5 separate regions of the Homo sapiens genome follow, and all the other regions are linked to region 4. Evidence: fine-mapped expression QTL. A gene starts in region 4. Each other region holds a variant in brackets. All regions are shown on one strand. Distances are from middle to middle.

The links.
Region 1: its variant is fine-mapped to the expression of NEDD4 in prefrontal cortex (CommonMind, PIP 0.95).
Region 2: its variant is fine-mapped to the expression of NEDD4 in whole blood (TOPMed, PIP above 0.99). The same link has a PIP of 0.9 or more in neutrophils.
Region 3: its variant is fine-mapped to the expression of NEDD4 in thyroid (GTEx, PIP above 0.99). The same link has a PIP of 0.9 or more in whole blood.
Region 5: its variant is fine-mapped to the expression of NEDD4 in lymphoblastoid cells (GTEx, PIP 0.98).

The regions. Positions count from the first base shown.
Region 1 is chr15:56,015,244-56,021,581 of GRCh38, forward strand. No RefSeq gene overlaps it. Among named protein-coding and RNA genes, the nearest start is that of NEDD4, 25 kb to the left of the region's middle. The variant A/ATT (reference allele first, on the strand shown) is at 3,150.
Region 2 is chr15:55,873,323-55,879,660 of GRCh38, forward strand. It overlaps NEDD4 (NEDD4 E3 ubiquitin protein ligase), which reads right to left. Exons shown (of 29, transcript NM_006154.4): 6 at 636-686. Among named protein-coding and RNA genes, the nearest start is that of NEDD4, 120 kb to the right of the region's middle. The variant T/C (reference allele first, on the strand shown) is at 2,642.
Region 3 is chr15:55,940,008-55,946,345 of GRCh38, forward strand. The region is part of intron 4 of NEDD4 (NEDD4 E3 ubiquitin protein ligase); the gene reads right to left. Among named protein-coding and RNA genes, the nearest start is that of NEDD4, 50 kb to the right of the region's middle. The variant C/A (reference allele first, on the strand shown) is at 3,040.
Region 4 is chr15:55,990,358-55,996,695 of GRCh38, forward strand. It overlaps NEDD4 (NEDD4 E3 ubiquitin protein ligase), which reads right to left and starts at 3,255. Exons shown (of 29, transcript NM_006154.4): 1 at 3,154-3,255. The coding sequence starts at 3,198. RefSeq lists an enhancer at 2,503-3,285 and silencers at 2,788-3,137, 3,378-3,477, 4,264-4,461.
Region 5 is chr15:55,567,224-55,572,223 of GRCh38, forward strand. The region is part of intron 1 of PYGO1 (pygopus family PHD finger 1); the gene reads right to left. Among named protein-coding and RNA genes, the nearest start is that of PYGO1, 19 kb to the right of the region's middle. The variant T/C (reference allele first, on the strand shown) is at 2,382.

The DNA.
Region 1 (6,338 bases), 25 kb after region 4:
GGGCAAAATGCCACCAGTCTCTGCTAAAACATAACAAGAGTCACCTTTGCTCCAGTTCCAACAAGTTCCTCATCTCCATCTGAGACCACGTCAGCCTGGACCTTATTGTTCATATCACTATCAGCCTTTTTTTCAAAGCCATTCAACAAGTCTCTAGGAGGTTCCAAACTTTCCCACATTTTCCTGTCTTCTTCTGAGCCCTCCAAACTGTTCCAACCTCTTTGTGTTACCCAGTTCCAAAGTCGCTTCCACATTTTTAGGTGTCTTTTCAGCAATGCCACACACTACTGGTCCCAATTTACTGTATTAGTCCACTTTCATGCTGCTTATAAGACATACCCTAGACTGGAAAGAAAAAGATGTTTAATTGGACTTACAATTCCAAATGGCTGGGGAGGCCTCAGAATCATGGTGGGAGGTGAAAGGCACTTCTTACATGGCAGTGAAAAGAGAAAAAATGATGAAAAAGCAAAAGCGGAAACCCCTGATAAACCCATCATATCTCATGAGACTTATTCACTATCATGAGAATAGCATGGGAAAGACCAGCCCCCATGATTAAGTTACCTTCCCCTGGGTCCCTCCCACAACACATGGGAATTCTGGGAGATACAATTCAAGTTGAGACTTGGGTGGGGACACAGCCAAGCCATATCAGGTGGCTTCAATAACTTGCTCACCAGAGCTCCCAATCCGCCATCCAGTTGCATTCATCTTAGATGTATCACTTAGGGGACTGAACCTGGACACCTATTGTTTTAGTTAAGAGGCTTTCCACCTCAATTAACAGAAAACCAACTCCACTCCTTAAACAGTGAAGGTGGCTTATATAACCAAATGTCTTGATATATGCAGACTTCAGGTACCATATAGTCATTGCCGGACAGGTTCTTCCTCTCCACTGCACAGACAAAATCAATCCACTGAGATGGCAGCACTGCAGTAGAGAAAGAGTTTAATTGACATGAGGCAAGCCCATGAGGGAGAACTGGGCTCAAATCAGTCTCTGAAGATTTGGAGGTTGGGAGTTTTTAGGGAGTAGGTGCTGCTGATTGGTTGGGGATGAAATCGTAGGGGTGTGGAAAATAGTCCTCATGGGCTGAGTCTGCCTCTGGGTGGGGCCACAGGATTCATTGAGTCATGAGTTCAGGTGGAGTCCATCTGAAAAACATCTCAAACTAATTATAGGTTCTGTAATAGTGATGTTATATAGGAGCAATTGGGAAGGTCACAAATCTTGTGACCTCTGGTCACATGACTCCTGAGCAGTAAGGGATTAGAAACTATGCCTACATTTTAGCAGAGTTCAGCACCCTCTCATAATCCGAAGCTTGTGGCTTTTTATTCGTTTTACAGATGCAGTTTAGTTTTGGGAAGGGCTGTTATTATCCCTGCTTTAAGGTTAAACTATAAACTAAATTCTCCCCATGGTTAGCTTGGCCCACACCCAGGAAAGACCGAGGATAGCTTGGAGGTCAGAAGCAAGATGGAATCAACTATGTCAGATTTCTCTTACTGTCATAATTTTGCAAAGGCAGTTTCAACATAATCAAAGTTCTAGCCTGATTTTCTTGCAGTGTTTGCGAGTCCATTCTCCACGTGTAGGTTTTGTTCTCAGGCTGGCTTCCCTCAAGGACACAAATTAAGCAACAGGTTTCTTTGCTTACATTCAATATGGAACAGTGAGATCTACTTTCCATTATTATCACTCAAATATAAAGAACTTTCCCAAAAGCTATTAGTAGCTCAAATTTTATTGGCCAACACTGAGGTACATTCCCATTCCTAAACCATTTGCTGGCCAGGGATGAGATTACATGGTTAGTTTACCTTAACCAGTCCTTACTTTGTGAGCTGAGGATGGTGTTAGCTTTCCCTAATCCCAAAGGTTGGATAAGGATGGATACCAGAACAAAATTGGGGATCTATGAGAAGGAAGGTGTGGGAAATTGATTACAGGTAGGCACCAAGAATATCCACTATATATATATTTTTTCTACCTTCTTTAAATTCTCACATTATTATTCCCTTGATTTTTGTGGTCCAACTGCACTGGCTTTCTTTTGGATCATCAAACATGCCTTGCTCCTTGTCACCCTAAGATCTTTGTTCAGACTATTTTCTTAGCCTGGAATTCTCTTCTCCCACTCTCTTTCCTGGTAAAATGCTACTCACTTAAAAGTCATTTCTTTCATAAAGCCTTCCCTCAGCCCCTTACTACATTATGTGCCTCTTCTTCCAACTCAAACTAACTTAAGCAAAAGGAGAATACAGTCAGTTTTCATTACGTGCAGTAGTTATGTTCTATCAAGTTGCCATAAACACTGCATTAGTGAATACTGAACCATTACTCCCAGAAGACTTAAAAGGTTAGGTTCCAGGGAGCCTCCGGTCACAATATTCTCATCAATGGATCAATACATAACCTTGTTTTATGTGTGTTTTGGCTTAAAGACATCTCATTTAATGCGTATTGTTGATTCATTAACACTGAACTACCAACATGCTAACTCATGCCTGAACAAAGCTTATCTAACCCATATATTTTCTCTGTAAGGCACATCTCAGCCTAGTATTCAGGAACGCTAACCAAAACAGCACTTTAGCACTAAGCTCCAGGGCCATTTTAAACAGTGAAAACAACGAAAAGCACAAAATGTGAAAAACGTGGCACTAAATAGATTGCAAAAAGGACATTTGTTTACAGTGTGAGAGGTGAAGCAAGACAGCAGACGTCTTGTTGAACCTCAGCTGGAAACATGCACATCAGGTGACTCAAATTTTTCACTACTCTGTACATACATGTCAGTGAATGATTGTGAAAGCACTGTTGGGGCTCAGAAAACAATACCCCATAGTATGGCACTGTGGCATGCTGAGTGCTTTGAACTGAAGTTGAACCAAGGTCTCACTGACTTTCTCCTGTGCTCTTGTCTCTTGTCCTTCTCTCCTGAAGAGCAAGAGGGAGCTCTCTCTGAATTTCCCTTACTTGCCTAAAAATGGATCCTCCAAAAGGGACTCATTTGTCCCCTCTCTGCAATCTCATTAGCTAGGGAAGATTAATTATATCACAGGAGAGGAGACTAAAGGTTGGTACCTTGCCCAGATAGACTTTGTCAAAAGTTGCCACCTATTCTTCTTCTTCCTGT[A/ATT]TTTTTTTTTTTTTTTTTTTGAGATAGGGTCTCATTCCTATCACCCAGGCTGGAGTGCAGTGGCACTATTGTGGCTTACTGCAGCCTTGAGCTCCCACGCTGAAGGGGTCCTCCTGCCTCAGCCTCTTGAGTAGCTGGGACCATGGCATGTGCCTCCACACCCAGCTATTTTTTTTTTCTTTTTTTGTAGGCATGTGGGGTTTTTCCATGTTGCCCAAGCTGATCTCAAACTTCTGACCTCAAGCGATCTGGCTGCCTCAGCCCCAAATGCTGGGATTACAGACATGAGCCACTGCCCCCAGCCCAACTGTTCTGAGGGTTGCTACTTGAGATATTTTCTCTGTATAACAAGACAACTTTGTTCACTATAAATTTCCTCCTCTCACCCTCTCATAACCTGTCACCACCTCCCCACAGAAGCCTCAAGCCCCTATTTCCTTCTATAGCTCAGGATGCTATAAAAACTTTGACCATCTACCCCTTCTTTGAATCTTATAATTTGTGAGGCTCCCACGTGCATGCACATAATAAAACTGTATGCCTTTTCTCTTGTTAATCTGTATGCTGTCAGTTTATTCCAGAGACTCAAATTATCAAACCTTCAGAAAGTAGGGGGAAGGTTTAAAACTCCCTTATAGTTTCAAGAGTATTAATCTGGGGGTTACAAATACGCTTTAGTAGGTAAGTAAATTTGCAAATACAGAATCCATGAATAATGAGTGTGGTGGTTAATATTAGGGGTCAACTTGATTGAAGGATGCCTACATAACTGGTAAAGTATTGTTTCTGGGTGTGTCTGTGAGGGTGTTGCCAGAGGAGATTAACATTTGAGTCAGCGGACTGGGAGAGGAAGACCCACCCTCCATGTGGGTGGGCACCATCCAATTGGCTGCCAGAGAGGCTAGAACGAAGCAAGCAGAGGAAGGTGGGATAAGCTGGCTTGCTGAGTTTTCTAACTTTCATCTTTTTCCCATGCTGGATGCTTCCTGCCGTTGGACATCAGACTCCAGGTTCTTCGGGGACTCTTGGACTTACACCAGCGTTTTGCCGGGGGCTCTGTCGGCTGCACTGTCAGTTTCCCTACTTTTGAGACTTTTGGACTCGGACTGAGCCACTACTGGCTTCCTTCTTTCTCAGCTTGGAGACAGCCTATCATGGACTTCGCATTGTGATCGTGTGAGTCAATTCTCCTTAAGAAACTCCCTTTCATGTATACATCTACATCCATCCTATTAGTTCTGTCCCCCTGGAGAACCCTGACTAATACAATAAGAATCAATTGTATGTTGCTGGATATACCTGGAAAGTCCAAGGAGGTAAATCTGATTCCAGGAATGACTAGATCTGAGAGTTTCAGGTCTCTCTTTTTTCCATCCCTCTGTTGTCTCTTCATGGCTTTGTTCTTGAAGAGGTTCTCTCTACTCAGCAGCACAACAGCTACCAGTAGTCCCAAGTCTATGTAATTCTTAGTTTACCCCCAAGCCCATAAGATAAACCCTTTATCTCCCAAGCTCTATGTATTTAATCTAAGAGAATAGTCTGATTGGGCTTTCTTGTACCCATTCCCTCATCTAGGGCAGGTGCAAGCGTGTTAGCCCCACCTGAACTGCATGAACAGACTCCTTACTGCGAAGAGGGGCGCTGTAATCAAAAGAAAGGAAAAGGAGCACAGTTGAATCTAATTAACAGCTGTTAATTATACCTGGCACATTTTTAGAATTCCGTGAAATGAAAAATGAACATTCTTTAAAAAATAATTTAGTTTTTCAACCATTGTCCACTCCCACCCCAAGTAGTCCTGTTTGTATTGTTGCCATCTGTGTGTCCATGAGTACCCAATATTTGGCTCACACTTATAAGTGAGAACGCGGTATTTGGCTTTCTGTTCCTGCGTTAATTCACTTAGGATAATGGCTACATCCATGCTGCTGCAAAGGACATGATTTCATTTTTTTTTATGACTCCGTAATGTTTCTGTTGTGTATGTACCACATTTTCTTTATCCCGTCCACCACTGATGGGCACCTAGGTTGATCCCATGTCTTTGTTATTGTGAATAGTGCTGCGATGAACATATAGATGCATATGTCTTTTGGTAGAATGATTTATTTTCTTTTAGATAGATACCCAGTAATGGGATTGCTGGGTCAAATGGTACTTTTGTTTTCAGTTTTTTGAGAAATCTCCAAACTGCTTTGCACACTGGCTGAACTAATTTACATTCTCATCAACAGTGTATACATGCTCCCTTTTCTCTGCAGCCTTGTCAGCATCTGTTATTTTTTGACTTTTTAAGAATAGCTATTCTGACTGGTATGATATGGTATTTTATTGTGATTTGATTTGCCTTTCTCTAATGATTAGTGATATGGAGCATTTTTTTCATGTATTTGTTGGCTGCTTGTGTTTTTTTTTTTTCTTTTTGGAGAAGTGTCTGTTCATGTCTTTTCTCCGTTTTTAATGGGGTTATTTGTTTTTGCTTGTTCAATTGTTTAAGTTACTTATAGATTCTGGATATTAGACCTTTGTCAGATGTGTAGTTTGCAAATGTTTTCTTCCATTCTGTAGGTTGTCCATATAATTTGTTAATAATTTATCTTGCTGTGTGGAAGCTCTTTAGTTTAATTAGGTCCCACTTGACAATTTTTGTTTTCGTTGCAATTGCTTTTGAGGACTTAGTCATAAATTATTTCCCAAGGCCAATGTCCCTAATGGTGTTTCCTAGGTTTTCTTCTAGTAGTCTTATAGTTTGAGGTCTTAAATTTAAATCTTAATCCATCTTGTAATAAGATAGGTGAAATGTAGGGGTTGAATTTCATTCTTCTGCATATTGCTAGGCAGTTATCCCAGCACCATTTATTGAATAGTAAGTCCTTTTTCCATTGCTTATTTTTGTCACCTTCGTCGAGATCAGATGGCTGTAGGTGTGCAGCTTCACTTCTGGATTCTGTATTCTGTTCCATTTATCTATGTGTCTGTTTTTGTTGTAGCCTTGTAGTATAGCTTGAAGTCAGGTAATGTGATGCCTCTGGCTTTGTTGTTTTTGCTTGGAATTGCTTTGGCTATTCAGACTCTTTTTTGGTTCCATATGAATTTTAGAATAGTTTTTTTCTAGTTCTGTGAAAGATGACATTGGTAGTTTGATAAGAATAGTGTTGAATATGTAGATTCCTTTGGCAGCATGGCCAT
Region 2 (6,338 bases), 120 kb before region 4:
CTCTGTCAGCAGTCTACTTTAAACTTTCATTTTCTTTGTTTCCTATCAAAACTCTGTTTGTCCAAAAATAAATTTTTTGCTTTTCAAAACAAAATGGCTTTTCTTCCTCACTTTTCTACAAGAGACGCCACTCTTATCTTCCAAGTTCAACTTGTATTATCTTTACTTCTTGCTTATTTTCTTAAGCCTCCATGTCAGACATGTGATTCAATAATGTTCTATTTTGCAATGTTTCCTGAATCTGTTTTTCTCCTTGCTATATTCTTAGTCCTGATTCTTAGTGTTTTATGTTTCCATTGTCGTAAACTATCTTAGTTTTCTTCTGTGAGCTTAGGCACTCCTCATTCTAGTTATTCAGCAGAATATTTTCAAACTAATCTTTTTTACACAATGTTTTCACAATGCCAACAAACATCAGAAATTCTCTATTTCTCACTGGGGTTCATGAACGGAAATCTTAAAGAGAAAATGGAAACGGAAAATTGAAATGAGTTTTTAGAAAACAGTATGCTCAATAAATAAAAGTAGTATACATTTGATAAATCAATTATTTACAGTAGCTATATTATATATGTAAGTATTTATTAAATTAAAAAAATAAGCCCAAAAGGAAAATCATGGACACCTATACCAACCGGTAATGGATAAAGTGGAACATCCACTTGACCTAGGAAATCATCTCTTGTCTATAAGAGAAGGAAGAAAAAATATAATTAGTAATACGCTCAATTCCTTTAGAAGAGTTTGATGAGATAGTGCCACCATTCACAGAAAATGTAGAGTTTTTTTTTTATTCAGTCATATGCAGCATCAATGGAAAATAAAAAGTAATGTGGTACAACTTCTGGTAATGGCAGAGTAGCATATATTAGATTAATCCTTCTGCAGATAACAATTATATTCTGTGACAAAATACTAAAAGAGCTATTTGAAAGTACAACAGAATGACCCCAAACAAGCAGAAACTGGAGGGATGTCAATCCTTCAAAGAAGGAACTACACTAGGTAAGATTCAGTATTTATATGGCTTTTCCTCTAGTAGTATTCTACAGTCCACATAATGCAGAGAGCCTAGAACTTAAGCTGAAATCTGCACTATTACTGGCTTGAGGAGTCAGAAGGCCTAGTTTGGGGTTGACAGCATATCTAGAAAAAGAGGAGAAACGTCCCAGAAAAAAAGAAGCCACCAGAGTTCTTCCAAATCTATATATAAACTCTTACCTAAATCCCTAGTTTTACTCTGAACTGAACAAGTGAAAATCAACAGATGGAAGACTGAGAGGGCTCAGCACTGATTTCAGCTGATGTTCACCAAAAGGGAAGCAGAATTTGGAGTTCAGCTATGTTAACTTGCTAGAACAAAAATCAACACTGGGCATGGAGGCTTACACCTGTAATCCCAGCACTTTGGGAGGCCGAGGTGGGCGGATCACCTGAGGTCAGGAGTTAGAGACCAGCCTGACCAACACGGTGAAACCTCATCTCTACGAAAAATACAAAAATTAGCCAGGTGTGGTGGCACATGCCTGTAATCCCAGCTACTTGGGAGGCTGAGGCAGGAGAGTGGCTTAAATCCAGGAGGCAGACGTTGCAGTGAGCCTGGACCATGCCACTGCACTCCAGCTTGGGTGACAGAGTAAGACTCCGCTCAAAAAGAAAAAAAAAAAGGAAATCAACTCTCCTCAGGGAAATATAATAAAATTCACTGTCTCTATTAGTTACTATATTCATTGTCCAGCCCACAATAAAAAAATTACTAGACATGCAAAGAAATAAAAAAAAAAACCCAGTAGGAAGAGAAAAAGTAATTAACAGAAACCAGCCACAAGATGACGCAGATCATGGAATAAGCAGACAAGGAAAATAAAGCAGCTATTATAAAGATGTTCAAAGGACTTAAAAGAAAAATAAGGTCATAATGAATGAAAAGATGGGGAACCTCAGCAGTGAAGGGGAAACTAAAAATGAATCAAATGCACATTTTATTTTATTTAATTTTATTTTTGAGACAGAGTCTTGCTCTGTCACCCTAGCTGGAGTGCAGTGGTGCAATCACAGCTAACTGCAACCTCTACTTCCTGGGTTCAAGTGATTTGTCTTGTCTTAGCCACACAGGTAGCTGGGATTACAGGCATGCACCATGCACTACCATGCCTGGCTGATTTTTGTATTTTTAGTAGAGACAGGGTTTCACCATGTTGACCAGTCTGGTCTCAAACTCCTGACCTCAGGTGATCCGCCTGCCTCAGCCTCCCAAAGTGCTGGGATTACAGGTGTTAGCCACCACGGCCGGCCAGATGTACATTTTAGAACTGAAAAATATAATACATGAAATAAAAAAATTCAATAAATGGGTTTAAAAGACAATTGAAGATGACTGGAGAAAAGTATGAACTTGAAGATATAGAGACAGAATTTATCTAATATGAAAAATAAAGGGAACTTGTGGAAAAATTTCAAGCAGTCTGACGTATGTGTAACTGGAGTTCCATAAAAGGGGATAGGTAATAGGGCAGAAAAATATTTGGGGAAAAAAACAGCCAAAATATTCACACATTTAGAAAAACACAAGCTGAGACAGTCAATAAAGTCAGTGAACTGAAGCAGGATAAACATAAAGAAAACATGGGTAGGCACACCA[T/C]TATTAAACGCTGAAAACAAAAGATAAACAGAAAATCTTGAAAGCAGCCTAAAATACATTACACACAGGAGAATAAGAATACAAATAATGGTTGACTTCTCGTCAAAAACAATGGAAGCCAGAAGACAACTGAATGATATCTATAAGTGCTGAAATGGAAAATGTACCAAGAATTCTGTATCTAGCAAAAACTATCCATAAAAAAGGGAAGGAAAATAAAGATACTTTCGGATAAAGTAGAGATAATTTGTCATCAGCAGACAAATTGTTGGCACTACAGAATATGCTATAGGAAGTTCTTCAGGCTGAGGATAAGTGGCACCAGATAGAAATTCAGATCTAAAGAGAGTAATAAAGAGCACCAGAAAATGGTAAATATGTGGGTAAAGTTTTTTTTTTTTAAGGTACCTTCTCAATCTTTTAAAGAACAAATTGTTGTATACAAAAAAAAAATTGTATCGCTATACTATGGGTTTAAAATATATGTAGATGTAATAAAAATGACAACATTGTGCACAAGATAGGTGGAATAATCAAATCTATATTGTTGCAAGACTTATATTTTATATAAAGTGGTATGATTGACATAAGTTAATCATTAATTGACTGCAGAGCTAAAAAGCACAGAGAAGAGTTAAAATGGAATATTGGAAATATCTGACTAACCCAAAATAAGGCAGGAAAAGAGAAACAAAGAAACAGATGAGAGGAACAGAAATAAACTGCACATTCTGAGAGCTAAATCCAGCCATATAAATTATGACAAACTAGTCCAATTAAAGACAGAGATTGTCAAGCTGAATAAAAATGCAAAATCTAACCATATGTTGCCTATAAAAGACATCTATCATTATTGTTTAAAAATATTTTATTAAATGTTTTTCTTTTTTTTTCACTTTTTTTTTCTTTTTTCTTTTTTTTTAAAGAGATGGAGTCTTGCCATCTTACGCAGGATGGTCTCAAACTCCTGGGCTCAAGCGAGTCTCCTGCCTTGGTGTTTCAAAGTGCTGGGATTACAGGTGTGAGCCACTGTGCCCAGCCAACTTCTCATTTTAAAAGAATTTCAGATTTAAAAAAATTGCAAAAATACTGCGAGAGAATCCTCATATACTTTTCACCCAGATCCACCAAATGTTAACATCTTAAATAACCATATTATGATGATCAAAACCAGAAATACTATTAACTACTCTACAGACTTGACTCAAAATTCACCAACTGTCTGCCTAATTTTAGTCCAGGGTCCAATTCAGACTCATATATTGCATTTAGTAGTCCTGTCTATTTAATTTCTTTAAATCTGGAAAGTACCTTAGTCTTTCTTTGTCTTTCATAATCTTGACATTTTTGAGCAGTACTGACTAGTCATAGAACATCCTTCTAATATTTCTTCATGGTTGAATTTAGATTATGCATTTTTTGCAAGAATACCATAAAGGTGATGCTTGTGCCCTTCTCAGTGCATCATATCAGGAGGCACACGATACTGATTTGTTGCATTACTAATGGTATTAACTTCAATCATTTGGTTAAGGTGCTGTCTTCCATGTTTCTCAATATTTTCCCCTTTGTAATTAACAGTATCTTGTGGGAAAAGCCTTTGAGGTTATGTAAATAGCCCATTTCTCATCAAACTTTTTCTCACAAACTTTAGCATCCATTGATGATTCTTGCCTGCAACAATTATTACTGTGGTGCTTGCCAAATGTTGACTTTCTATTTCTACCATTTCCATTATTCTTTTTATATTAATTAATTATTATTCTGCTTAAGCAAAGAATTTTCCCCTTCCTCCCATTTATACATTCTAATTTATATCATCATAGACTCATTGATATTTGTTTTATATTATCTTATAAGATATAATCCATTATTGTTACTTATTTTTTTACTCAAATTGTCCCAGATATGGTCATTGAGAGTCACTTCAGGTTAGTTTTTGTGCATTTCTGATATCTTCTCAATTTTTTTGTGTACTTCCTTACTTTTTGGCACCACAAAAATGATTCAGGTTCAGCATATACTCTTCTTATCCCTGCTCTACAATCAATCAGCCACTTGTCCAGAGAACCCTGATAAATTTTACTGGAGAATCATATTTAGATATAAAGATCCGGGTTCAAGGTGCTTATTACTTTCAGGCTCAAGAGATGAACTTTGAATTCAAATATACAGATAAATTGAAGATAAAGGTATGGAAAAAATAATCAGGTATACAGTAAGTATAAGTGGCTATAATAATATCAGACAAATTAGATTTCATGATGATGAGTATTACCACAAATAAAAAGAAACATTTCATAATAATAAAGAGATCAATTCATAAAATATTACTATAAGTCAATAATATGAATCAATAATAAACAGAAAAACTGTCCCATTAAAATGGGCATAAGACTTGAACAGATATTTCAAACAAGAAGATAAATAAATGGTAAATATTATATGAAAATATGCTTATCACTATTAATCATCAGGGAAATGCAAATTAAAATCACAATGCAGTACTACTTCAAACCCCCTGGAATAGCTAAAATAAAAAAAGTCTGACAAAAACAAATATTGGTCAGGGTGTGGTGCAATCAAAACTCTCTTATAAAGTTAAACATATACCAGTATATGACCAAGAAATTCTGCTCCTTGTATTTTCTTAAGAGAATAAAAACAAATATCCTCTAAAATACTTCTTCAAGAATGTTCACAGAATTTCATTCATAATAGCCTAAACTGGAAATAAATGTCCTTTGAAAAATAAAACTGTGGGATATACAACTAGTAGAATTACTCAGCGATGAAATGAAATGAACGGATATACAAAATAACATATATAAATCTCAAAGAAAAGTGGTTTTTTTGTTTGTTTGTTTTGTTTTTTTGAGACGGAGTTTCGCTCTTGTCGCCCAGGCTGGGGTGCAATGGCGCGATCTCGACTCACTGCAACCTCCGCCTCCCTCGTTCAAGCGATTCTTCTGCCTCAGCCTCGCAAGTAGCTGAGATTACAGGCATGTGCCACCACAACCAGCTAATTTTTTTGTGTTATTAGTAAAGACAGGTTTTACCATGTTGGCCAGGCTAGTCTCAAACTACTGACCCCAGGTGATCCACCTGACTTGGACTCCCAAAGTGCTGGGATTATAGGCATGAGCCACAGTGCCTGGCCAGAAAAGTTTAATTATAAAAAGAAGATACAAAAGAGTACATGCTGTCCGATTTAATTTACATGAACAGTAAAAGAAAGAAAAAAGGGAGACTGGAAGAGTAGATGACAGCAGAGAGATAAGTGAGAGAATGAGTGAAAGTCCTAATACCAAACAATAAGGACCTCTCCAACTCCTTTGTTTCACTTGGCTTCTAGAATACTGGCAGACAAATATATACTTCCCAGGAAAGAAAATTCCTCTCTGGAACAACTAAGCAACCCAATGAGACAGACTTATAGATATTAAATCCAGGAAGTCTTCCAATAAAATGACTAATTCTCTCTGCTCACCCCAAAGTGAAGTCCACTAGTCAGTAGATGCCCATGAACAAAACCCTTCCAATAAATATTGGAATATTATACATTATGGGCAGTTATGGACTACTAAATATTTGGGGAAAGTTTATAACATGAAACACACAGACCTAAATGAAAGACGGGAGTCTGATGAATAAGAATCAAGTCAAATTGCAAGAAAAATACCTCAGAAAAACCGTA
Region 3 (6,338 bases), 50 kb before region 4:
TACAATAGAATATTATTCAGCCTTCAAAAAGGAAACCCTGCCATTTCCAACAAAATGGATGAACCTTGAGGACACTACCCTAGGTGAAATAAGCTAGTCCCAGAAGAACAAATACTGACTATCTTACTCACAAAAAGTATCTAAAATAGTCAAATTCATAGAAGCAGAGAATAGAATGGTGGTTTAATACTATATTATACACCAAAACCTTTGTGAAGAGGGTACATATCAAGTGTTCTTACCACAAAAAAGGGGGTGATAGGAGGAAACTTTTGGAGGTGATGGATATGTTTATGACTTTGATTGTGGTGATGGTTTCACAGCTGTATGCATATGTTTAAACCTATCAAACTGTATGAATTAAATATGTGCAGGCTTTTTCTATATGAACTATACCCCCAATAAATCAGTTAAAATTTTGTTTAAATGGCTTATTTTTCTCATTAACATCTCTAATTCCAAAGTAGTCCTTCCTCCCTCTCTCCCTCCTTCCTCCTTCCCTCCTCCCCCTTCTCTCTCTCTCTCTCTCTCTCTCTCTGCCTCTCTGCCTCTCTCTGTCTCTTTCTTTTGGGACTGTCTCACTATGTTGCCCACGGTATCCTCGAATTCCTTGGCTCAAAGAATTGTCTCCCATGTCAGCCTCCAAAGTAGCTGGGTCTATAGGTGTGTGCCACCATGCCTTGTGAAGAGGGTCGTTTTTTTTTGGTAGAGATGGGGTCCCACTATTTTGCTCAGGATGACCTTAAACTTTTAGGGGGCCCACCCTGGCCTCTCGAAGTGCTGGTATTATAGGCATGAGCCACCATGCCAGGCCAAACATTCTTTCTAATAAAAGAATAAGATCATCAAAAAGAATGGCAATATTTTTAAATTATAAGCACCTTAAATTTTTTAAAATAAAAAATAAATTATAACATTAATTCCTCTAACAGATATCCATATTTTCTGTTTCTACTTATATTGGTTTTAGTATATTTTGGCTTATAAGAATTTATCCATTTAAACTGAGTTGTTAAAATTACAGGCATAAAATTAGTTACAATATTACCTTTTAAAAAGTATCTGTAGGTTCCCTCCTCTGATTCCTAATATTGGTCATCTGAGTACTCTCTCTGTCTCTCTCATATAAGGCCAGCTGTTGTATATCAATTTCATTAATTTTTTTGAAGATCCATCCTTGGTTTTATTTATTTTCTCTACTTTTTGTCCATTTTCTTGTCCATTGATTTCCACTCTTATTTCCTTCCTTCTTTTTCTTTAAAGAACTTAAGGTGGAAGCTTAGATCATTGATTTTGAATATTTCTTCATTTATATACAAGTATTTAAAGGTATAAATTAATCTCTAAGCACTGAAATAGCTTCATCCCACATTTGGTATGTTATGCTTTAACAATCAATCAGTAAAAATGCTTGTTAATTTCCCTTTTATTTTCTTTTTTGATCCATGGCTTATTCAAAAGAAACTTGTTTAATTTCTAAACATTTGTGATATACATACGTGTGTTACTGAATTGTAACTTAAATCTGCTGTGATCAGAGAACATACCCTGTTAAATTTCTTTTTTTTTTTTTTTGAGACAGAGTCTCACTCTGTCACCCAGGCTGGAGTCCAGCAGCACAATTTCAGCTCACTGCAACCTCCGCCTCCCAGGTTCAAGCGATTCTCGTGCCCAGTCTCCCAAGTAGCTGGTATTACAGGTGCGCACCATCACACCCAGCTACTTTTTGTATACTTTTTTTCTTTAGTAGAGGCGGGGTTTCATCATATTGGTCAGGCTTGTCTCAAATTCCTGACCTCAAGTGATATGCCTGCATCGGCTTCCCAAAGTGCGAGGATTATAGGCGTGAGCCATTGCGCCCAGCCAATCCTGTTGAATTTCAATCCTTTTAACTGTACTGAAACTCGGTTTGTGGCCCAATATGTGGTCTATCTTGGTAAATGTTCCATGGGCATATAAAAAGAATATACACTTGGGTATTAGCTGTAGTGTACTATACATGTCAAACAGGTTAACATGATTGGTAGTGTTGTTCAAATCATCTATATATTTACTATTTTTTTTTTGTCTAGTTGTTGTATCAGTTACTAGAAGTGGTAAAATCAACTATTGTGGATTTGTTTATTTATTTAGTTCTGTCAATTTTGACTTCGTAATTTTAAAGATTACTAGGTCCATACACATTTCAGATTGTATGTCTTCTTGTTGAATTCACTCTTTATAATCATGAAATGCCCTCTTTATCTCTGGCAATACTGTCCTGAAGTCTAATTTGGCTAATGTTAATACAACCATTAACATATTTTTTCTGGTGTTTGTATGGTATCTCATATGGTTTGGAATTATGTCTCTGCCAAAATCTCATGTCAAATTGTAATCCCTAATGTTGGAGGAGGGGCCAGATGGGAGGTGACCGGATCACGGAGGCAGACTTCCCCCTTGCTGCTCTGGTGATAGTAAGCGACTTCTTATGAGATTTGGTTGCTTAAAAGTGTGTAGTACTTCCCCCTTCATTCTCCTCCTCCTTCTCTGGCCATGTTAGATGAGCCTGCTTCCCCTTCACCTTCTGTCACAATTGTTAAGTTTCCTGAGGCCCCCTCATCCAGGCTTCCTGTACAGCCTGTGGAACTGTGAGTCAATTACAGCCGTTTTCTTTATAAACTGCTCAGTCTCAGGGAGTTCTTTATAGCAATGCAAGAACAAACTAATACAGAAAATTGGTAATGGGAAGTCAGGCATTGCTATACAGATACCTGAAAATGTGGAAGCAAGTTTAGAAGTGGGTAATGGACAGAGGTTGAAACAGTTTGGAGAGATCAGAAGAAGAAAGGAGGATGATGGAAAGATAGAATTTCCTAGAGACTTGTTGAATGGTTGTGACCAAAATGCTGATAGTGATATGAACAGGAAAGTCCAGGCTGAGGTGGTCTCGAAGACAAGGAATCTTTTGGGAACTGAAATAAAGGTCCCTCTTGCTATGCTTCTACAAAGAGACTGGCAGCATTGTGCCCCTGCTCTAGAAATCTGTGGAACTTTGAA[C/A]TTGAAAGAGATGATTTACGGTATCTGGCAGAAGAAATTTCTAAGCAGCAAAGTGTTCAAGAAGTGGCCTGGCTGCTTCTAACCATATGCTTATATGCATTCACAGAAATGATCTGAAACTGGAACTTATATTTAAAAGGAAAGCAGAGCATAAAAGTTGGGAATATGTGCAGCCTGATCATGTGGTAGAAAAGAAAGCCCCATTTTGTGGGGAGGAATTCAAGCCAGCTGCTGGAGCTGAATGTTCATAGCCAAGACAATGGGGAAGATGCCTTGAATGCATTTTAGAGATCTTTGTGGCAGCTCCTCCTATCACAGCCCCAGAGGACTAGAAGGGAAGAATGATTTCATAGACCAGGCCCAGGGCCCTGCTGCCCTACACAACCTTGGGACACTGCTCTCTGAGTCCCAGCCACTCCAGCTCCAGCTGTGGGTAAAAGGGCCCAGATATGTCTCAGGCCGCTGCTCTAGAAGGTTCAAACCGTAAGTCTTGGTGGCTTTCACATGGTTTTAAGCCTGCAGGTGGGCACAGGGCAAGAGCTGAGGCTTAGGAGCTCTTCCTAGATTTCAGAGGATGTATGGAAATGTGTCGATATCCACACAGAAGTCTGGATATTGCAGGGGCAGAGCCCTCATGGAGAACTTCTATTAGGGCAGTGTGGATGGGAAATGTGGGACTGGAGTCCCCACACAGGGTTCCCACTGGGACACTGCCTAGTGGAGCTGTGAGAAGTAGGCCACTATCGTCCAGACCCCAGAATGGGAGATTGACTAACCGCTTGCACTGTTTGCCTGCAAAACCCTTAGGCACTCAACACTAGCCTGTGAAAGCAGCTGAAGGGATTGTACCTTGCAGAGACACAGGGGTGGAGACACCCAAGGCCTTTCGGAACCCACCCCTTGCATCAGTGTGGCCTGGATGTGAGACACAGAGTCAAAGGAGATTATTTTGGAGCTTTAAGATGTAATGATTGGAAGATGGCCAAATAGGAACAGCTCCTGTCTGCAGCTCCCGGTATGATTGACGCAGAAGACGGGTGATTTCTACATTTCCACCTGAGGTGCCTGGTTCATCTCATTTGGACTGGCTGGACAGTGGGTGCAGCCCACAGAGGGCAAGCCGAAGCAGGATGGGGCATTGCCTCACCTCGGAAGTGCAAGGGGTCAGGGGATTTCCCTTTCCTAGCCAAAAGAAGCTGTGATAAACTGTACCTGGAAAAACAGGACACTTCTGGCCAAATACTGTGCTTTTCCCATGGTCTTATCAACTGGCAGACCAGGAGATTCTCTCCCATGCCTGGATTGGCGGGTACCATGCCCACAGAGCCTTGCTCACTGCTAGCGCAGCAGTCTGAGATCGACCTGCCAGTCTGCAGACTGGTGGGGTAAGGGGTGTCCACCATTGCTGAGGCTTGAGTAGGTAAACAAAGCAGCCGGGAAGCTGAAACTAGGCAGAGCCCACCTCAGCTCATCAAGGCCTACTGCCTATATAGACTCAACCTCTGTGAGCAGGGCATAGCTGAACAAAATGCAGCAGAAACTTCTACAGACTTAAATGTCCCTATCTGACAGCTCTGAAGAGAGCAGTGGTTCTCCCAGCATGGGATTTGAGCTCTGATAACAAGAGACTGCCACCTCAAGTGGGTCCCTGACCCCCGTGTAGCCTAACTGGGAGACACTTCCCAGTAGGGGCCAACAGACACCTCATACAGGCAGGTGCCCCTCTGGGACAAAGCTTCCAGAGGAAGGATGAGGCAGCAATATTTGCTGTTTTGCAATATTTGCTGTTCTGCAGCCTCCACTGGTGATACCCAAGCAAACAGGGTCTGGAGTGGACCTCCAGCAAAATCCAACAGATGTGCAGCTGAGGGAACTGAGTGTTAGACGGAAAACTAACAAACACAAAGGAATAGCATCAACATCAACAAAAAGGACATACACACCAAAACCCCATCTGTATGTCACGAACGTCAAAGATGAAAGGTAGATAAAACCACCAAGATGGGGAGAAACCAGAGCAGAAAAGCTGAAAATTCTAAAAACCAGAGCGCATCTTCTCCTCCAAAGGATCGCAGCCCCTCGCCAGCAACAGAACAAAGCTGGAAGGAGAATGACTTTGATGAGTTGACAGAAGTAGGCTTCAGAAGGTCGGTAAAAACAAACTTCTCCAAGCTAAAGAAGCATGTTCTAACCCATTGCAAGGAACCTAAAAACCTTGAAAAAAGGTTAGCCCAATGGCTAACTAGAATAAATAGTGTAGAGAAGACCTTAAATGACCTGATGGAGCTGAAAACCATGGCACAAGAACTTTGTGATACATGCACAAGCTTCAGTAGCTGATTCAATCAAGTGGAAGAAAGGCTATCACTGATTGAAGATGAAATTAATGAAATAAAGTGAGAATACAAGTTTAGAGAAAAAAGAATAAAAAGAAGCAAAGAAAGCCTCCAAGAAATATGGGACTATGTGAAAAGACCAACTCTATGTTTGGTGTAGCTGAAAGTGACAGGGAGAATGGAACCAAGGTGGAAAACACTCTACAGGATAATATCAAGGAGAACTTCCCCAACCTAGCAAGGCATGACAACATTCAAATTCAGGAAATACAGATAACACCACAAAGATATTCCTCGAGAAGAGCAACCCCAAGACACATAATTGTCAGATTCACCAACGTTGAAATGAAGGAAAAAATGTTAAGGGCGGCCACAGAGAAAGGTGAGGTTACCCACTAAGAGAAACCCATTAGACTAACAGCAAATCTCTCAGCAGAAACCTTACAAGCCAGAAGACAGTGGGGGCCAATATTCAACATTCTTAAAGAAAATAATTTTGAATGCAGAATTTCATATCCAGCCAAACTAAGCTTCATAAGAAAAGGAGAAATAAAACCCTTTATAGACAAGCTGAGAGATTTTGTCACCACCAGGCCTGCCTTACAAGAGCTCATGAAGGAAGCACTAAACATGGAAGGGAACAACCAGTACCAGCCACTGCAAAACCATGCCAAATTATAAAGATCATCGATGCTATGAAGAAACTCCATCAATTAACGAGCAAAATAACCAGTGAACATCATAATTACAGGATCAAATTCACACATAACAATATTAACCTTAAATGTAAATGGGCTAAATGCCCCCATTAAAAGACACAGACTGGCGAATTAGATAAAGAGTCAAGACCCATCAGTGTGCTGTATTCAGGAGACCCACCTCATGTGCAGAGACACACATAGGCTCATGAGAATAAAGGGATGGAGGAAGATCTATCAAGCAAATGGAAAACAAAAAAAGCAG
Region 4 (6,338 bases):
ATCCAGGAAGCTACTACCTCTCCCAGTCAGAAAGGTAGATGATCAGGAGTCATCACCAGAACTGATGACTTCAAGAATATAATCAATCTTGACGTCTGGAAGCCACTACCACCACTACTTCGGTGACTTCCTATCAATATGTACAAAGCAAGTTACCAGATACTGGAATACTTTCGCAGAAAATTTAGATGTTTACATGACTGTGCTTATCAGCAGAAAAAGCCAAAGAAACAAAACAATATGCTCCACCTCATTTCCACTCTGCAAATCTCAAGTAAGTGCACTTAACTGGGGAGCCTACTTTGGATCCAGTCCATTAATTTCAATGGAGTGTGGGAAACAGTGTTTAGTTTTCCCACCTCCATATCACAGGGAGGTGCATGGGAAGGAGGTGGGAAGTGATGCTCAATTCCAGTCCCCGCATCCACCACACTGCTCTCCAATAAAGATCAGTGCATGTTATTCTCTACTGTGAATCTCAAGTGACCAGAGCAAATCTGGTATAAATTATACTACACTTCCTCCTTTGTTTGTTAACACTTTAAAGGTAAAATCCTGCACATGCAGCCAGGGTGATCTCTTACTATAAGTCACTTATATGTGGAAGAAGAGCCAAAACTCACTGAAAAGTGAGAGAAAGGTATTATGATCTACATTTTAGCATACTTCAGTGCTAATATGCTCAGACACTGACTCAGCGACTATTCACTATATACTGATTAAATTACAATTCTTTCACTATCTTCTATCCCATTTCAAATTATTTTTCTCCCTGTTTTAGTTTCAAATTTAAAATAAGAATCCTCTCCTTTTGTTGTAATGAAAAAGCACTTTACTTTTAATCAACAGCAGAGGGCTGCCTATTTCCAGACTAGTCTGTGAGTTTTAGAAGTGACATAGCTGCAATGCTTTCTTCCTTTAACAAAAGGGGTGTTTGGGGGTGGGGAGGATGGGGGAGTGTGGTTTCAATCCTTCTTTTACTTTTGTGATAGACCAGAAAATAAATGGCAAATGATAGTGGAGAGGGCAACCTCCACAAGAAAAAAAGTGACTTTTATCTTTCCCTCAGTCCGAGGCTGAGACTGTCTTTTTTCCCTCTCTATCCCTGGTGCCTAGCACAATGCATGGTACAGAGCAAACAGTAAATGAATGTCTGTTGAATGAATAATCCAATTACAATGGAAGAAGTGGAAGACTCTTCATCATCATGTCTCTTATCTTCCTATCTCACTCCCTTCCTCAATGTGGACAAAATAGAGCGGGGACAGAAGCAAATTAGAGTCATGGAACTGACAGCCAGAACTCCCAGAATGTGAATGGGATAGGCCACAGTCCATGAAACTTCCTAGAAGTACAAATCCTTCAGCAAGTTCAGGAAATCCACATTTCAAAGGGTGGAGTTTCTGGCCTTTGGCCCCAGTTCCTTACCGACCACCCATTAACTGCCACAATTAGTTTTATTTCAGCTGGGCAGAGGGGTGATGATTGAAAACAGAGAAATTACTAAAGTAGATAATTAAAAACACTGATCATGTACCAAGAGGGAGAAAACAGATGGTGAATGATACCTTTGGCACTATTTTCTTTAAGATCAACTGGCTCTGCTGGAAGGCGGTGAGATGAGAAATCTGCAATTAGCAGGGCCTACCTGTGAATATAGCAGGGAAAGAAAGTCCAAGGTCAGCCTGATTGGGTTGGACACCACCTTGAAGTCAACTGCACTGGGCAGTCTACGTAGCAAGCAGGGAAATCTGACTGATAAGAAAGCGACCACAGGTGAAGTGCTGTATTATCTTCTGATCTCGTCTACAGAATAAAGGTGCCATTAGCTAGAATGATATCTTTAGCTGTAACACATTGACTATTGTTTCTGAGGGACTATGAGCCGCCACCATTTGTCCATCATCACTTTATTTCTCTTCTGGCAGCAATAGCTAGGAAATTAAATTCTAATCGCATCACGTAAGCATTCTCAAAATATCCTGAAATAACTGCATTAACAAATTGCCCACCCTTTATAAACAAAGAACTCTCAAGAGAAGTGTAAAATGTTTGACGACACCAAGGTACTAAGAGAAGGAACTATACAACTTAAATATTACAATACTTAAGCAAGCAGTATAAATTAGGTTGATGGATTTTCAGTTAACTGGGTCTCATCTTGATAAAAGGTACATGTGGCAGCTTAGTCAGCCAACAAGAAAGCAAAAAACTTGATTTTTTTCACTCGGAACCAGTCACTGTTAGACTACATGCAGCCTTTTCATCTCCCACCCATTTGCATTTTTGAGACAATCTCCAAGAACACACAGAAGCCACATATCATTTACGACGGAACAACCTTTCCAAATGGTCGTACAATATTTTTAATAAGCATAGGCATAATCAGCATTAGTTATTTAGCTGAAAAGAAACAGCTTTGCCTTCTTCAAATCCCAGAGCTTAATCTAGTTTTCAAAGGGAACAGATGTGGTAACTTCTTTATAAAGTATTTATACTTTTTTGGCTTCACTTTTTAACATCAACGACGACCGGTGAAATAAAGCATGAACTTCTCACACTAGACACTTGTTGCTAAAGAGGAGGAGGAAAATTTATGTTCCTGCTCTCCCATCCCTGTCTCTAGTTAGGGGATTAAAAAGGATTTCAGATAAAGAAGAAAAAAACAAACCAGCGAATGACAATTCACTTGGAACTCTCCAGACCGAAGTCCGTAAAGTTAAGTCGGCCCGGCCTCCGCCAGAGCAAGCAAATCAACAGCGGGGATGCTGCGACCGTCTCCCAACGCCTGGGAGCTCCGCACACCCGGCGGGGGTGGCAGGAAGGGGCTGGCGCGGTGATGTGGGTCCCCCGCCGACCGCCTAGCCCCCTCCTCAACACTTCCTGAAGGAAACTGACAAGTAAGGCGGCGGCCGCTCCGGGAAGGGGCGGGTGTGGACCCGACAAGCTTGCTCCCTCCAGCGAGCCCCCAGCGCCCGCGCGCCGAGCCGCCCCCACAGTCCCCGCGGCGCCTCGCGCGCTCCCCAGGCTCGCGCCGAGGGAGGAGGGGCTGACAGCAGAGCCTCCGGTCGTGGCCGCCGCCGCTACCTCCCCGGGTCCGGCTGCTGAATAACCCGAAGGGAAGCCCGCCCCGCAGCCCCGCGGTCCCCGCACCTCGTCCTCCAGGAGCCCGAACACCTCCACCGCGCAAGTTGCCATTTCCGAACGCTTCCAGCAAACCGGACGCGCTCGCCCCCGCCCAGGGCAGGCAACTGTGGAGGAGGAGGAGGAGAAGCGGGAGGAGGCGGGGAAGAGTTGGAGGAAGAGGAGGAGGCGCTCCCTCAGCGACAGCAGCGCCTCCCGCGGCGAGCGGGCACTAGCGGCACCCGGCAGCGCGGCGGGAAAAGGCCGGCGGCGCGCGCTCCTGGGGCTGGGCGGGGGCGCGCGTGGCGGGGCTCGGGGAGTGGGGAGGGCGTGCGGCGGGGCTCGGGTGGGATGAGCGCGCGCGGCGGGGACCATGGCGTGGGGAGCGCGCGTGGCGGGGCGCGCCCTCGGTCCCTTCCCGGGAGGTGGGTGGTTGACGGGCCCGCCGGGGAGCCAGGGAGCGCCGGGAAGCGCCGGGAAGCCAAGCTGCAGTGTTCCTCAGCAACAAGTCTCGCTGAGATCCGACCCAGAGTTCGGCCTCTGACTAGACGCCTGGGAATCCGTGAGCTTAATCCCCGCTTAAATCCCAAACGGAAAATCATAGCGCTTTCTTGTCGGTTAAGGGTGTCATTCCCATAAGAAGCTGGACCTGGGGACCGCCAGGGAAAGCCTGAGCGTGGCAGCAAATGGGGAGGCCTGGAGGGATCGCAGCAGTCTTGGACTCGGGATCTGAAATTCTCTCCCTAGGATTTGTAAACAGTGCCAGTTCCTAAGCTATTTGTTGTCCTATGGTCTGTCCATCTTTAAATCCCACCAGTAACAATCCAATCTCCAGGCTGACCCTCTAAACCTGCTTTAGCTGGGCGTTGATCCGCAGCACCACCAGAAGGCAGTGACGAAGAGGGAAAAATAAAGTGAACTAGGACCTCCTGTAGAATAACTCCTCCTGTGGAATAACTCCTCCTGTGGAATAAGGTTATGGAATAATCATGCTTTTTAATATTCCTGTCTGATGGGCTTTATAATTCCATAATTACAGGAAGACCTCCACCAAATAAGGCATCCATAAAAGAGTCTGGGGAGAATTATGAACACCCAGGCCACAATTTATATCATGTTGTTTTTATACATTTGCAGAAATTTGCAGAATTCTGCAATCTCAAAATCTAATTTTTATTTTCCTCAATGATTTCAGAATAACTCTGATTTATTTTTAACAGTTTAAGATGCTACGTGGGAACAAGGCTATAGCCCATATTACTGGTTTGTTACGTAAGATTTTTCTCGTACTTGGCCGGGCGCGGTGGCTCACGCCTGTAATCCCAGCACTTTGGGAAACCTAAGGCGGTGAATCACCTTAGGTCAGGAGTTCGAGCCCAACCTGGCCAACATAGTAAAACCCTGTCTCTACTAAAAACACAAAAATTAGCTGGGCGTGGTGGCGGGCGCCTGGAGTCCCAGCTGCTTGGGTGGCTGAGGCAAGGGAATCGCTTGAGCTTGGGAGGAGGAGGTTACAGTGAGCCAAGATTGCGCCGTTGCACTCCAGCCTGGGCGACAGAACAAGACTCCACCTCAATTGTCGTACTTTATGATTGGTAGGATCCATTTCATTCATATAATATGTATCAAAATTCTGTTAATACACAATTCAGATTTTATCCGTATTAGGGGGAAAGAGATGGCACTTAATCAAACATGACTACAAAATTACAGAATGGTCAGGAATTGTTGGCTTACCTAAATCGAAAAAGCCATGAGAGCATTAATTTGTTTTTTAAGTTGTCACATATCTGTGGGATTTGTGGGTTAAGAATAAAATAATCTGAAAATATTGTGTGCCCTTCTATTTTGCGAATATTTCCCTCATCTCTCATGATACACATTTTTATGTTTAATTTTAAGTTAGTTAAGTCATTTGAATTTAAGTTAATTCAGTGTCATTTCAGGGCACAATTACAAACGTGTAAAAACAGCTTCCGTTACTGCTACTAAAATTTAATGAATATATGAGAAGTATACACAGCCTAAAACTGGTAATTAAAAAAAAAAAAATCAGTAAATCCCCAAGGGATTATAAAGTAAAGCAAATTGGCCATTTGATGTATCCAATAGGTATTAGTGATGATACTTCTAAAGACCACTGATTTGACTCATGATTTCTTATTCTGTCTTTCCGAATATGAAATCATGAAGAATTAAACAGCTACCAATACAAGATGAACTAGAGTAATTATTGTATCCCGGTCAACAGCTAGGAGGGGCACCTGAAATTAAAGGAAGCTCAAATCGGGATGGTGATATCAGCTGGTGGTCCAATAACCAACCACCACTGAGAAAGCTGTTTAGAATGAAGAACTCCTCTACATATCACTCAACTGCGCAGAACTCTCATGAAGGCGTTTTGTCTACCTAGGCTGCCTTCAATTAGGTTCATGTTGATTTGGTTTGAGTGTGTGTATAACCATGTGAGGCACGTGTGAAGAATGTGACATGGTGCATAACAATTGATTCTGTGCCTCATACCTGTGCTAGGGATCATCCCAAGCCAAAATCCAGGCAATTCTAGCAACCTCCAATAGCATCACCCCTTCTATCTCTTGTTCTTGAGTCTTTTCTCCCTTCAAATCTGCCTTTACATGAGCCTCCAAACTGATTAAGAAGCAAGAAATGAATGAAAACCAGTAAACCTGGTCTAGACTTTCTAGTAGTCTGTATACGTAAACCTCTTTAACTCTGCCTATAGATTTCACTGTGATGCAGAAATTGTTTCTAGTTTTTAAAATATCACCCCCTGGGATCAAAATTGGATGTGGAATGTAACAATATGAAAGGTAATGATACGAAATGCACTTTAATGTTGGTAATTAATTCCCTAAGGGATATAAAAAAGTCTTGTTCAGAAGTTCTCCTTTAATTCTCTCTTACTCTTAATATCCCCTGGCTGCTTCCTTTCTAATAGTTAATGTTTGAGATTTTTAAGGTTCATTTTTTCTTCCACTGGAAACTCCCTGGACCTCATCCATTGCCATTGCCATTACCATAGTTTCAGCTACTTTCTTCATAGAGCCCATCTCAGATCCAGAGCTCAGTAGTGCAAGAAATGTTTATTTGATTTTCTGAAATGAACTAAGTTTCTGCCTCCAGTAGTAGAATACATAGTCCCAATCAATTCATTGGTCTTGCCTGACCCTCTTTTTGCTAAGCTGGATTCTGAC
Region 5 (5,000 bases), 420 kb before region 4:
TTTGAGACAGGGTCTGGCTCTATCACTCAGGCTGGGTGCAGTGGTGTGAAGACAGCTAACTGCAGCCTCAAACTCCTGGGCTCAAGAGATTCTCCTACCTCAGCTGCCCACGTGTCTGGGACCACAAGCATGTGCCACCATACCTGGCTAATTTCTTTATTTTTTGTAGAGACAGGGTCTCCCTTTGTTGCCCAAGCTGGTCTCAAACTCCTTTTGCCCATTTTTAATGGGGTTGTTTGTTTTTGGCTTGTTCAATGGTTTAAATTCCTTATAAATTCTGGATATTAGACCTTTGTCAGATGCACAGTTTGTGAATATATTCTCCCTTCTGTAGGTTGTCTGTTTACTCTGTTGTTTCTTTTGCTATGCAGAAACTCTCTAGTTTAATTAGATCCTACTTGTCAATTTTTGTTTTTGTTGCAATTGCTTTCAAGACTTAGTCATATATTCTTTTGCAAGACTGTTGTCCAGAATGGTGTTTCCTGGGTATTCTTGGATTCTTATAGTTTGAGGCCTTAGATTTAAATCTATAATCCATCTTAATTTTTGTACATGGTGATAGGTATGGGTCCATTTTCATTCTTCTACATATGGATAGCCAGCTATCCCAGCGCCATTTACTGGGCCTTTCACCATTGCTTGTTTTTCTCAATTTTGTCAAATATCAGATGGCTACAAGTATGTGGCTTTATTTCTAGGTTCTCCATTCTATTGGTCTAAATTGTTTTCGTACCAGTACCATGCTGTTTTTGATACTGCTGCCTTATATTTGAAGTAAAGTAATGTGATGCCTCCAACTTTGTTCTTTTTGCTTAGGATTGATTTGGCTATTTGGGCTCTTTTTTGGTTCCGTATGAATTTTAACACAGTTTTTTCCAATTCTGTGAAAAATTCCATTGTAGTTTGATAGAAATAGTGTTCAATGTGTAGACTGCTTTGAGCAGTGTGGCTATTTTAATGAGATTGATTCCTTCAATTCATGAGCATAGAATGTTTTTCCATTTGTTTGTGTCATCTATGATTTATTTTATCAGTGTTTTTTAGTTCTCCTTGTAGAGATGTTTCACCTCAATGGTTAAGACGTATTTCCTAGGTACTGTGTGTGTGTGTGTGTGTGTGTGTGTGTGTGTGTGTGTGTGTCTGTAAATGGGATTGCTTTCTTGATGTGGCTCTCAGCTTGTATATTACTGGTATATTGAAATGGTACCAGTTTTTGAACGTTGATTTTGTATCTTGAAACCTTGCTAAAATTGTTTATAAATTCTAATAGCCTTTTGGTGGAGTCCTTAGGGTGTTGTAAGTATAGAATCATATTGTCAGCAAAGAGAAATAGTTTGTCTTCTTTTCCTATTTGGATGCCTTTTCTTTCTCTTGCCTGAGTGCTCTAACACTTCCAGTACTGTACTGAATAGGAGTCATGAGAGTGGGTATGCTTGTCTTGTTCCAGTTCTCAGGGTACTGCATCCAGTTTCTGCCTATACAGTATGATGCTGGCTCTGGGTTTGTCATAGAGGGCTCTTATTATTTGGAAGTATGTTCGTTCGATGCCTAGTTTGCTGAGGGTTTTTATCGTGATAGGATGTTAGATTTTATCAAAAGCTTTTTTCATGTCTATTAAGATGATTATATGATTTTTATGTTTAATTCTGTTTATGTGGTGAATCACACTTATTGATTTGCTTATGTTGAACCAACCTTGCACCCCAGGACTGAAACCTACTTAATCATGGTGAATTAACTTTTTGATGTGCTATTGAATTTGGTTTGCTAGTATTTTGTTAAGTATGTTTACATCTATGTTCATCAGGGATACTGGCCTATAGCTTTCTTTTTTTTTTCATTGTGTCCTTGCCAGGTTTTGGTATTGGGATGATGGGACTCATTCTACTTTATAGAATGAGTAAGGAAGGAGTTCCTCCTCAATTTTTTAGAATAGTAGAATTGGTACCAGCTCTTCTCTTTTTGAATTTCTAGTAGAATTCAGCTATAAATTCATTTGATCCTAGGGTGTTTGTTTGTTTCATTGATACTTTGTATGGATTTTGGTGTCTCAATTTGTTATATTCAGCTCTGATTTAGTTATTTCATTTCTTCTGCTAGCCTTGAGATTAGTTTGTTCTTGTTTTTCTAGTTCTTCTAGGTGTGATGTTAGATCATTAATTTGAGATCTTTCTAACTTTTTGAGGTGATGTTCAGTGCTACATATGCTCCTTTTAATACTGTTGCCACTGCATCCCAGATATTTTGGTATGTTGTGCCTCTGTTTTCATTTATTTCAAAGAATTTTTTAAATTTCTGCCTTGATTTCATTACCCAGATGTCATTTCATTACCCAAAAGTCATTCAAGAGCAAGTTGTTTAACTTCCATGCAATTGTGTGA[T/C]TTTGAGAGATCTTCTTGGTACTTCTATGTTTATTCCACCGTGGTCCAAAAGTACTGTTGGTAGGATTTCAATTTTTTTGAATTTATTGAGACTTGCTTTACAGCCAAGCATGTGGTCAATCTTAGAGTATGTTCATGTGCAGATGAGAAGAATGTATATTCTGTGGTTGATGGATGGTGGCTGTGCCTGCCATTGGGGTCCTATAGACATATCTACCACTCCACAGCAGGCACTCCAATCTCTAGCCTGAGACTAAAATGCCTATATAGCTGCACTGCCAGGTCACCAAGGAATTCCTGATTTTGTACACAACCAGATTTAAAATGGCATCCTGCTCTCAGGGTCTTGGAAAATACCTGCAGCTTTTCCCAGTGTCTTTCCCTCACAGTGTCTCCAAGATTTTCCCCATGTTAGCTCCAGGGCTTGGGAGAAACAAAGGGCTTTCCCTCTACCTGAGTTGCTCAGATCCCCAGTGGAAAGGTCAGTCAGAGAGAGGGGCTCTCTACCTCTTTCACATACTTAGGCCTCACTCACTTTTATCAACTGGATGCCATCATGGGGGCTGTTTGCCAGTGTTCTCCTCTCTGGGATTGAGGGTGTCCTTCACAATTCCATTGGATACTCATTTTCCTTTTTGAATTAAAGCTCACAGAGTTGATCTTTATGTACTATCTTGCTATTTCCAGGTGGCTGAGGCATGCCAAAAGCCTCTAATCTGCCATCTTGGGGAAAAAGAAGCCTGCTTTTGTTTTTAAGAAAAATTTTTTCAAATTTTACTCTGATTTATCAAAAATATCTAAACTAGTCATTTTCAATCTTGGCTGCATGTTGGAATCACTTGGGAGCTAATATTCCTTGCCATTTTTCTACTGAGTGTTTCATCCTTTTCTTAGTGATTTATGGAAGCTTTTCATATACTAAAAAAAAAAACTGAACATATTTAAACTGTAAATACTTTCATCAGGTTATTATGTTTTGATTTCTTGTTATAAAATTTTAAATACATTTTAAATTTTAGATTTTTACATTTATAAAAATGTGAAGATAGTAAAGAGAATTTGCACATACCCTGTACCCAGTTTCCTCTATAATGCTATCCAGAATTTTAAAAAATAATTTTATGTAATAAAATGCATCAATATTTTATTTTTTAATTCTGGGCTTTGTCTTATGCTTAAAAGAGCAATCCCCATTTTTAGAGAATAAAACATAATTCTCTCAGGTTTTTTTCCTAATATTTTTATGGCTTAATTTTTTAATTTTAACTTTTAATTGTAGTAAAACACATATATAATTTACCATCTTAAAGTATACAGTTCAGTGGTATTAAGTATATTCACATTACTGCATAACCAACCTCCAGAATGTTTTCATCTTGTAAAACTGAAACTATATCCATCAAGCAACAACTCCCCATTTTCCCCTTCTCCATCCCCTATGATCCTCATCTACTTTTAGCTTTTATGAATTTGACTACTCTAGATATTTTACACAAGTAGAATCATCCAGTACTTGTCTTTCTGTGACTGACTTATTTCATTAAGCATAATGTCCTCAAGGTTCTATAGCATGTGTCAGAATTTCCTTCCTTTTTGTGGCTGAATAATATTCCATGTATAGTATACACATACTACATTCTGTTTATCCATTTATCTGTAGATGCATACCTCGGTTGTTTCTACCTTTTAGCTACTGTGACTAATGCTGCTAAGAACATACATGTTATAATACCTCTTTGAGACTCTATTCTCAACTATTTCGGATATATACACAGAAGTGAAATTGTTGGAGAGTTTATCCTATGATATGGTATGGCTGTGTCCCTACCCAAATCTCATCTTGAATTCCCATGTGTTGTGGGAGGGATCTGGTAGGAGGTAACTGAATCATGGGGGCAGGTCTTTCCTATGCTGGTTTTATGATAGTGAATAAGTCTCACGAGATCTGACGGTTTTACAAACAGGGGTTTCCCTGCACACGCTCTCTCTTTGCCTGCCACCATCCACGTGAGATGTGACTTGCTCCACCTTGCTTTCCACCGTGATTGTGGGGCCTCTCCAGCCACATGGAACTGTAAGTCCATTAAACCTCTTTTTATCTATAAATCATCCAGTCTTGGGTATGTCTTTATCAGCAGCGTGAAAATCATCCAGTATTCGTCTTTCTGTGACTAGACTAATACATCCTATTTTCAATTTTTTGAGGAACCATCAAGCTATTTTTTCGTAATATGGCCATATTTTTATGTCATATCTTTACTCCATTTGGAATTTATTTTGGGATAATGTGAGGTAAAAAACAATGTTATTTTGTTCCAGATGGCTAGCCACAACAGGGAATACTATTCCATTTATTAGAAGTCTTCCTCTGTGTCCCTCAATAGGGTTTTTAGGGAGTTTTTATCTACAGATTCAATATAATCTCCATCAAAATTCCAAGGGCATCTTCCACAGAAAAAGAAAAAAAATCCTAAAATTCATATGGAACCACTAAAGATTCTGAATAGCCTAAGCAATCTTGACAAACAAGTGAACAAAAAATCACTTCCTGATTTCATACTATATGACAAAGCTACAGTAATACGGGCATAAAAACACACACATTCACCATGGAACACA